Regions from separate parts of the Homo sapiens genome. Here region 2 is linked to region 1. Evidence: fine-mapped expression QTL. A gene starts in region 1. The other region holds a variant in brackets. All regions are shown on one strand. Distances are from middle to middle. Region 1 holds the start of DTX2 (deltex E3 ubiquitin ligase 2). Region 2 overlaps DTX2 (deltex E3 ubiquitin ligase 2).

Region 1 (4,379 bases):
ACTGTATACATAATATTCAACATACATAGTATGTGCACACATGTGCAAACACTCACATTATCTAAAATTCATCATAATCTTACCCCGGCTTCTCCCCACACTCCTCAGATCCTGCTATAGCCTAGTGCATTTTCTCCTTCCTCACTCCCTTCCCTCCATGTGTCCTCTGCCCTGGCCACCAGGAACTTTGTGCTGCCTCCGGAGTGCATGAGGCACTTTCACATCTCTCTTGCTTTACAAGAGCTTCCCTATGCTCCAACTGGCAAATTTCTCTATGGACTGAAAAACCCACATAGCCTTTATCTGTCTTGTGATGTCTTCTCCCCACCCTCAAGTTAGGCATACCCTTCTATGCCCTCCTTTATCCAAACATTTTCCCCACTATATCGTAATTGTGTGTTTAAGTGCCGGACTTTCCAACTAGATACAAAGCTTTCCCAGGAAAGAAATCCTTTTCTTTTCTTCTTTCTTTCTTTTCTTTTCTTTTCTTTCTTTTTTTTTTTTTTTTTTTTGAGACAGATTCCCACTGTGTCGTCCAGGCTGGAGTGCAGTGGCACAATCTTGGCTCAGTGCAACCTCCACCTCCAGGGTTCAAGTGATTCTCTTGCCTCAGTCTTCCAAGTAGCTGGGATTACAGGCACGCGCCACCACACCCAGTTAATTATTATTATTATTATTATTTTTTTTTTTTTTTGAGACGGAGTCTCGCTCTGTCACCCAGGCTGGAGTGCAGTGGCACAATCTCGGCTCACTGCAAGCTCCGCCTCCCGGGTTCACGCCATTCTCCTGCCTCAGCCTCCCGAGTAGCTGGGACTACAGGAGCCCACCACTACGCCCGCTTAATTTTTTTTTTTTTTTGTATTTTTAGTAGAGACGGGGTTTCACCGTGGTCTCGATCTCCTGCCCTCGTGATCCGCCCGCCTCGGCCTCCCAGAGTGCTGGGATTACAGGCGTGAGCCACTGCGCCCGGCCTCCACACCCAGTTAATTTTTGTATTTTTAGTAGAGACGGGGTTTCACCATGTTGGCCAGGATGGTCTCAATCTCTTGACCTTGTGATCTGGCTGCCTCGGCCTCCCAAAGTGCTGGGATTACAGGCGTGAGCCACCGCTCCCGGCGAGAAACCTTTTCTTTTTCTTTTTTCTTCTTCTTCGTCTTTTTTTTTTTTTCTTTTGAGAGGGATTCCTGTTCCGTCGCCCAGGCTGGAGTGCAATGGCGCGATCTTGGCTCACTACAGCCTCTGCCTCCCGGGTTCAAGCGATTCTCTTGCCTCAGCCTCCCGAGTAGCTGGGATTACAGGCACGAGCCACCACGCCCGGCTAGTTTTTTTTGGTATTTTTAGTAGAGACGGGGTTTCGCCATGATGGCCAGGCTGGTCTGGAACTCCCGACCTCAGGTGATCCGCCCACCTCTGCCTCTCAAAGTGCAGGGATTACAGGCATGAGCCACTGCGCCCAGCCAAGAAACCATTTCTGATTCACCTATTCACTCCCGCACTCCCACTACACAGTAGCTAAATAAATAAATAAATATTAAAAATAAATAGGAAAGAAAGAGAGAAAAAAAGAAAAGAAAAAGACAAAAATTTAAATTTAAAAAGGTTGTGCTCGATGGCTCACACTTGCAACCCCAGTGCTTTGGGAGGCTGAATGAAGCAAGAGGATCGCTTGAGGCCAGGAGTTTGAGATCGGCCTGAGCAACGTTGCAGCATTGCAAAACCCCCATCTGTACAAAAAAGAAAAATAAAATTAATTTTAAAAACAAAAAAAGAGAAACAGTAGCACATGTATGTACTGGCACCATGTATGTACTAGTAAAAACTAGTTAAAATTAAGTCAGTAATTAATGAAGGAATAAGTCAATGAGTGAGCAGGCGAAGGAAGAAAACATAGACCGGAGCAGGTGCGCCTTGGGTTGAGCCCTTCCCCGCTGAGCCCCGCCTTCTGCCCGCCCCTGGGCCCTACCGGGACTACATTTCCCAGAAGGCCGCACGCCCCGGGCATGCGCAGCGGCTCGCTCGGAAGCTGCGACGCCGAGTTTCACTCTGGCTGCCTTCTCCTGAGAGTCGGAGCCACAGCCAGAGCCCTGCCCAGGCCGAGCCGGAGCTGCAGCCCGAGCGCGGTGGTGCCCTCAGCCCCGTCCTCTTGTCCTCCTCAGCCTCGGTGAGAGGGCGGGAAGGCCACCTGCGCGTCGCTAGGGCTGCGGTCCCAGGGGCGCGGGGTGGCGCGGGGAGCCGGAGCCTAGCTGGGACCGGAAGGGGGCGGGCGTGGGTGTGAGGGGGACCGACGGCCGGGGCGGCGGGGACACCCGGGGGTCCCGGGAGATCGGGGGTGTCGGGGGGATCGGTCTCCGGGATCAAGGTCCTGAGGGCGAGAGTTGGGGGACTTGGGAGGCGCCGGCAGCTTTGGACGGGACAGGGTGCCGGGTGCGAAAGGGGACGTTCGGATGAAGGCTGAGGGGCTCGCAGGCGGAGGGGCGCGGTTCCGGGTCGCTCGGAAGGCGCGCACCCCTTCCCAAAGTACCCAGAGGAGGGGGTGACGAGATTGCCACCGGCTCCCTGACGAGGGGTTGGTCCTGCTGGGGTCTACCCCCAGGTGAAGGGACTCACTGGGCCGGGGGTTGTACTTTGGAGGAGTTTGCTTCCTAACTCTGCTTCCCTGCTTTCCTGTGGGGGGTCTTCCCAGGAGTTCCTGGGGCCCTGGGTCACTTTTTGGGGTGCGTAAGGGGTGCCGAAAAAGATTTAGAACTCGGTTCCCTTTTCTGGAGCTGCGCTTTCATCGCGACTGTCTCAGCCAGCTGCCCTCCTCCTCCAAGCTGGCTCCACTTCTCTAAGCGCCAACAGCGATGGAAATAAATAGCATGTGTACAGACGCCTGGACCCTTGAGAAACTCAGAATATTTCTGCATGCCTTCCTAGCTCCTCTAGCGCTCTAGAAGGTAGACTTTCTGGTAGCCACCATCCGGGCTTAAGCCATCCGGATAGCAAGCCCTCTGATTCGGTTGCTCTGTGACCTTAAATATTTACCCTCTCTGGTGTGTTGATTTCCTGGATGCTTAGCTGCCAGACTGGCTTATGAAGTCCTTTTAGAGTTTTCTGTAAAAGGGCTCAGGCCAGGCACGGTGGCTCATGCCTGTAATCCCAGCCCTTTGGGAGGCCGAGGTGGAAGGATCATTTGAGTCCAGGAATTTGAGACAAGCCTGGGAAACGAAGAGGATTCCTGAGATCACTGTCTCTATAAAAAATCAGATGGGCGTGTTGGTGGGTGCCTGTAGTCCCAGCTACTTGGGAGGCTGAGGCAGGAGGATCGCTTGAGCCCAGGAGTTGGAGGCTGCAGTGAGCTGTGATCACACCACTGCACTGCAGCATGGGCGACAGAGGGAGACCCCGTCTCAAAAAACAAAAAACAAACAAACTAAAAAAACGAACTTTTTTTTTTTTTTAAGAAAAGGGCTCAGAGCCAGGCGTGGTGACTCGAGCCTATAATCCCAGCTACTCGGGAAGCTGAGGCAGGAGAGTAGCTTGAACCTGGGAGGCGGAGGCTGCAGTGAGCCGAGATCACGCCACTGCACTCCAGCTTGGGTGACAGAGCAAGACTCCGTCTCCAAAAACTAATAATAATAAAAAATTTTAAAAAGAGCTCAGGGTTTTTTTGTTTGTTTGCTTTTTGTTGTTTCTTCAACCATCTCCTTGATTGTTAAGTGGGTGGAGGAAGACTGTTGTACCTCCTGCTCCACCCAGGCTATTGGAAAATAAATCTGGTGATTTTCAGTCCCCAGGCACAGCACACGGATCCAACATCTGTACCTTTGTTTTTACTAACTGCTGTTTCTTAATTTAAAACCTGATCATCTTCTTCCTCGTTGGCAAAGGTGCCTTGGAATTTGTGTCGCTGAGTCAGCAAGCCTTTCAGATTTGCCCGGTTTTTGTTGTTTGTGGTTTGTATCAAGATGGGAACTCAAACAAGTCATTCCTCCTAAGGAGCTGGTGTCTTCATCCAGAAGGGACAGTTTGTGCCAGCTCTCCAGAGAGAAAAGGTGAGAGCCATGGGGACTTGACCTTGCTGCCTTCTCTATCTGGTGCAGAGAAGGTGGGGATTGGGGAGGGTGGAATTTGAGGTCTGCAGGATAAACGTGTGCCCTGGGAGTTGACTGTTGATTGCCACCTGTCTCAAATAAATTGCAGTGGCGTCTTGCCACTGCTTCTCCTGTTTAACTAACTAGTCTTAGAAGATGCTTTCCACTTTAAGACATGCTTTATGGGATAGAAGACACAAGTCACGATTTCTGCATTTGAAGTGGCAGTTTTCATTTCTTTTGTTGCATAAACCCTTACTGGGTGCCAGATAAGATCTCTGTCTTTTGGGAGTGCATTGTTTGGTG
Region 2 (4,379 bases), 21 kb after region 1:
CTGGCCCACAGCATCCCCTTGGGCCAGGCAGACCCCTCGCTGGCCCCTTACATTATTGACCTCCCCAGCTGGACCCAGTTCCGCCAGGACACCGGTAAGACGCTGTCTGCCTCTCGCACATATCTGGGTGCCGCACCTGCTTTCCCACAGGCTCTGCGCCAGGTGTTGGGGTGATGGACGTGACTTACAGAGCTTCTGCTCTCTCCCTGCAGCACACGTGGTGGTGGGTGGGTGCAGTGAGTGGGAACATCCACATAGGTTGAGTGCAGCTCACAGTGGGAGAGGCACTGTGGGAGGCCCTTCCCCTTGTCTTGCAAAGCAGAAATGCCTGTCCCGACCACAGAGGTTGAAGGGTTCCTTTGGCCGGCAGGCCGGCATGGAGGTGGTGCGTCATAGGAGTTCAGAGGGCCCTGTCCCACCACTCAGTGGCTGTGTGCCCTGGGCAGGCAACTGCGCCCCTCTGCATGTGTGCGTTTCTGCTTTTTGGTCTGCGATGTGTTTTGATCTTTTTTTTTTTTTTTGAGACGGAGTCTGGCTCTGTTGCCTAAACTGGAGTGCAGTGGCGCAGTCTCGGCTCACTGCAACCCCTGCCTCCTGGGTTCAAGCGATTCTCCTGCCTCAGCCTCCCGAGTAGCTGGGATTATAGGCATCCACCACCACACCTGGCTAATTTTTGTATTTTTAGTAGAGACGGGGTTTTGCCACGTTGGCCAGGCTGGTGTCGAGCTCCTGACCTCAGGTGATCTGCCTGCCTCGGCCTCCCAAAGTGCTGGGATTACAAGCATGAGCCACCGCGCCTGGACCTGCAGTGTGTTTTGATCAGTATTATTGAGAATGAGGCACCAGTTTCCTCTCGGAGCCATCCCTTACTCTAATCTGGTGGTTGTCACTGGGGGTGATTTTGTCCCCGGGGCCATCTGACAATGTTTGGAGACATTGTTGGTTGTTACAGCTGAGTGGGTGGGAGGTGGGGGTGCTCCTGGCATCTGGTGGGTGGAGGCCAGGGATGCTGCTCGCCATCCGGCAGTGCACTGGGCTGGCCCTGCAGTAAGGAATTATTGGCCCACAGTGTCACCAGTGAGGAAACTTGAAAAACTGGTTTTTCCTTTTTTTTTTCAATTTTAATTTTAGTTTTATTTTTAAAAGTATGGGTTTTTTTTTTTCGTGTTTGTTTGTTTGTTTGTTTTTTGTAAAGACTGGGTCTCCATTGCCCTGTGTTGCCCAGGCTGGTCTTCAACTCCTGAGCTCAAGTGATCCTCCTGCCTTGGCCTCCGAAAGTGTTGGGATTACAGGCTCGAGCCGTCATGCCCAGCCCTGGAAACTATGTGTTTCCAGGAGTGTCGTAGAGTCTGTGAAAACTGTGGCTGTCAGTCAGCTCCCAAGTCGTTGCCTTCACAGTGTGTGAAGTCAACTGAGAAAGATAGCAGACAGGATAAATAATAACATGGAAATTGCATATCGTGGCAGAGAGCAGGAAGTGTTAATCGGGGAATGAAAGTGGCAGGTGTTGTAGAGGTCGATTTGAAGTTAGCTGGGTGTGGTGTCATGTGCCTGTAGTCCCAGTTATTTAGGAGGCTAAGGCAGGAGGATCGCTTGAGCCCAGGAGGTCAGGGTGGCAGTGAACTATGATCACATCACTGCACTGCAGCCTGGGCGACAAAGGGGTACCCTGCCTCTAACAATAAATAAATAAACAAATAGCAGCATGACTGTGTACCTACTGTGTTCCTATTTGTTTATTTTGGCGGTTGAAAAAAGAATTTGAACGTTCCCTGTATCTTGGGGATGCTAGCAGACTAACCTTTTGTTTTCCTTTGAAAATAGGCACCATGCGGGCTGTGCGGAGACACCTGTTCCCCCAGCACTCAGCCCCTGGCCGAGGTGTCGTCTGGGAGTGGCTGAGCGACGATGGCTCCTGGACTGCCTATGAAGCCAGCGTCTGTGACTATCTGGAGCAGCAGGTGGCCAGGGGCAACCAGCTCGTGGACTTGGC[C/G]CCCCTGGGGTACAACTACACTGTCAACTACACCACCCACACGCAGACCAACAAGACTTCCAGCTTCTGCCGCAGCGTGCGGCGCCAAGCAGGGCCGCCTTACCCGGTGACCACCATCATCGCTCCGCCGGGCCACACAGGCGTCGCCTGCTCTTGCCACCAGTGCCTCAGTGGCAGCAGAACTGGCCCCGTGTCAGGCCGCTACCGCCACTCCATGACCAACCTCCCTGCATACCCCGTCCCCCAGCACCCCCCACACAGGACCGCTTCTGTGTTTGGGACCCACCAGGCCTTTGCACCGTACAACAAACCCTCACTCTCCGGGGCCCGGTCTGCGCCCAGGCTGAACACCACCAACGCCTGGGGCGCAGCTCCTCCTTCCCTGGGGAGCCAGCCCCTCTACCGCTCCAGCCTCTCCCACCTGGGACCGCAGCACCTGCCCCCAGGATCCTCCACCTCCGGTGCAGTCAGGTATCGTGGGCAACGGCCGCTCGTTTTGTCTGCCCTGTGTTTCCGCTCTTAGCCGGGAAGACTCACCCCAATTCCTGCAGATGCGGCTCCTGCCCCCTAGGTGGTCCTGCCGTGGCATCTCATTTGCATGTGGCATGTGGGTGCCGAGGTGCCGTGGCCATCCAGAGCCTACCTGACCCCTTGTACCTGAGTCCTGGCGGTCACCACACGGGTTAGAATCTACAGTCCTTTCACTCATGATGATTAAGGGCCTCCACATGGAGCAGAGTTAAAGGCCTGTGGCCTCTGCTTGCGGGCTGCATGGCGAGCATTGTGCCCGAGAACACTGGGTCACTGCCTGTACACTGACTCCCGCCTTGTGCCAGGCCCTAAGGACCCAGAGACCAGAGTATCAGCCCTTACCCCTGAGCCCTAGTCTAGTGCAAGGGGCTGTCAGCGCGGTGTGAGGGAGGGCAGAATGTGGAGCACGTGGCAGTGGCTGCAGGTGGCATGGGTGACCTGGCCCCCGTGATGATGCAGCCCAGCCCAGAGTGCCTGGTAGAGCGCTCAGCTCCTTGAGAGAGAGAGAATGATACCACGGGCCCAGTGCAGACCAGAGCGGGTGGCATTTAAAATGAGGAGATTGGTCAGGCACAGAGGCTGACACCTTTAATCCCAGCACTTTGGGAGGCCAAGGCAGGAAGATCATTTGAACCCAGCAGTCAGAGACCAGCCTGAGCAACATAGCGAGACCCCATCTCCACAAAAAAAATTTTTTTAATTAGCCAGGCATGGTGGTACACACCTGTAATCCCAGCTACTTGGGAGACTGAGGCAGGAGGATTGCTGGAGACCAGGAGGTCAAGGCAGCAGTGAGCTGTGATCGCACCACTGCACTTCAGCCCCCTAGGTGACAGAGCGAGACCCTGTCTTAAAGCTGGGCCCAGTGGCTCACGCCTGTAGTTCCAGCACTTTGGGAGGCCGAGGTGGGCGGATCACCTGAGGTCAGGAGTTCAAGACCAGCCTGGCCAACATGGTGAAACCCCATCTCTACTAAAAATACAAAAATTAGCCAGGCATGGTGGCCAGCGCCTGTAATCCCAGCTACTTGGAAGGCTGAGGCAAAAGAATCCCTTGAACCCAGGAGGTGGAGGTTGCAGTGAGCCAAGATCGTGCCACTGCGTTCCAGCCTGGGCAACAAAGAGCGAAACTCCATCTCGGGGGAAAAAAATAAAAAAGATAAAATGAGGAACCCCCCCAGGATTTCCCTGGATTTGGCCAAGGTGAATGGGCTGGCCGTAGCCCTCTGACTGTCTGGGTGACTTGGGGCTTCGTCATTCATTATTGAGAATGTTGGGCTTGGAGCACATTTTGAGAATTCAGAGTGGTAGCTGGGACAGGGCTTTCTGAGAGTGCCCTGGTGCGGGTGGTGAGGGAGTGGGTGGGCCTGGGGCCACCCTGGTCCCAGGGAGGAAATCATCTCCTTTCTCCGCACTGGCCCTGGTCGGCATCCTGCTGCCTCCCTGCTCACCGGCCCACCCCTGCCCACCGCAGCCACGTCAAGGGCTGAAACTTCACAGGGTGGTTGAGACCGCCTTGGCAGCTTCTTGGACCTCTAGTATTTGTTCAGACTGGGTTTCCGAGGACCCTGCCAGCTTGTGTAAGACACAGTGACAGCGCCTCCCGCTCATTGGTTCGTGTCATGTGCCAGGCCCTCCTGAGCAGGCTGCTTGAGTGACTTCACTCATCCCACGATGCTCTCAGGCTGAGCAGTGTTCTTCGCTTACAGGAGAGCACATTCAGGCCCATGAGGTTGGCGACACAGCCAGCAAGTAGCGGAGCTGGGATTCAGCCCAGACCCCAAGAGTGGGCTATCTGGGGCACATGGGGAGTTATTGACATTCCCGGGAAGGCAGGGGGCTCTTTTAATACATTT

The links. PIP is the estimated chance that this variant, and not a neighbour inherited with it, causes the effect.
Region 2: its variant is the best candidate, but not a certain one, in a credible set for the expression of DTX2 in whole blood (INTERVAL, PIP 0.74).

The regions. Positions count from the first base shown.
Region 1 is chr7:76,459,676-76,464,054 of GRCh38, forward strand. It overlaps DTX2 (deltex E3 ubiquitin ligase 2), which reads left to right and starts at 2,034. Exons shown (of 11, transcript NM_001102594.3): 1 at 2,034-2,161; 2 at 3,870-4,034.
Region 2 is chr7:76,480,684-76,485,062 of GRCh38, forward strand. DTX2 (deltex E3 ubiquitin ligase 2) reads left to right here. Exons shown (of 11, transcript NM_001102594.3): 3 at 1-94; 4 at 1,825-2,464. Among named protein-coding and RNA genes, the nearest start is that of DTX2, 21 kb to the left of the region's middle. The variant C/G (reference allele first, on the strand shown) is at 1,994.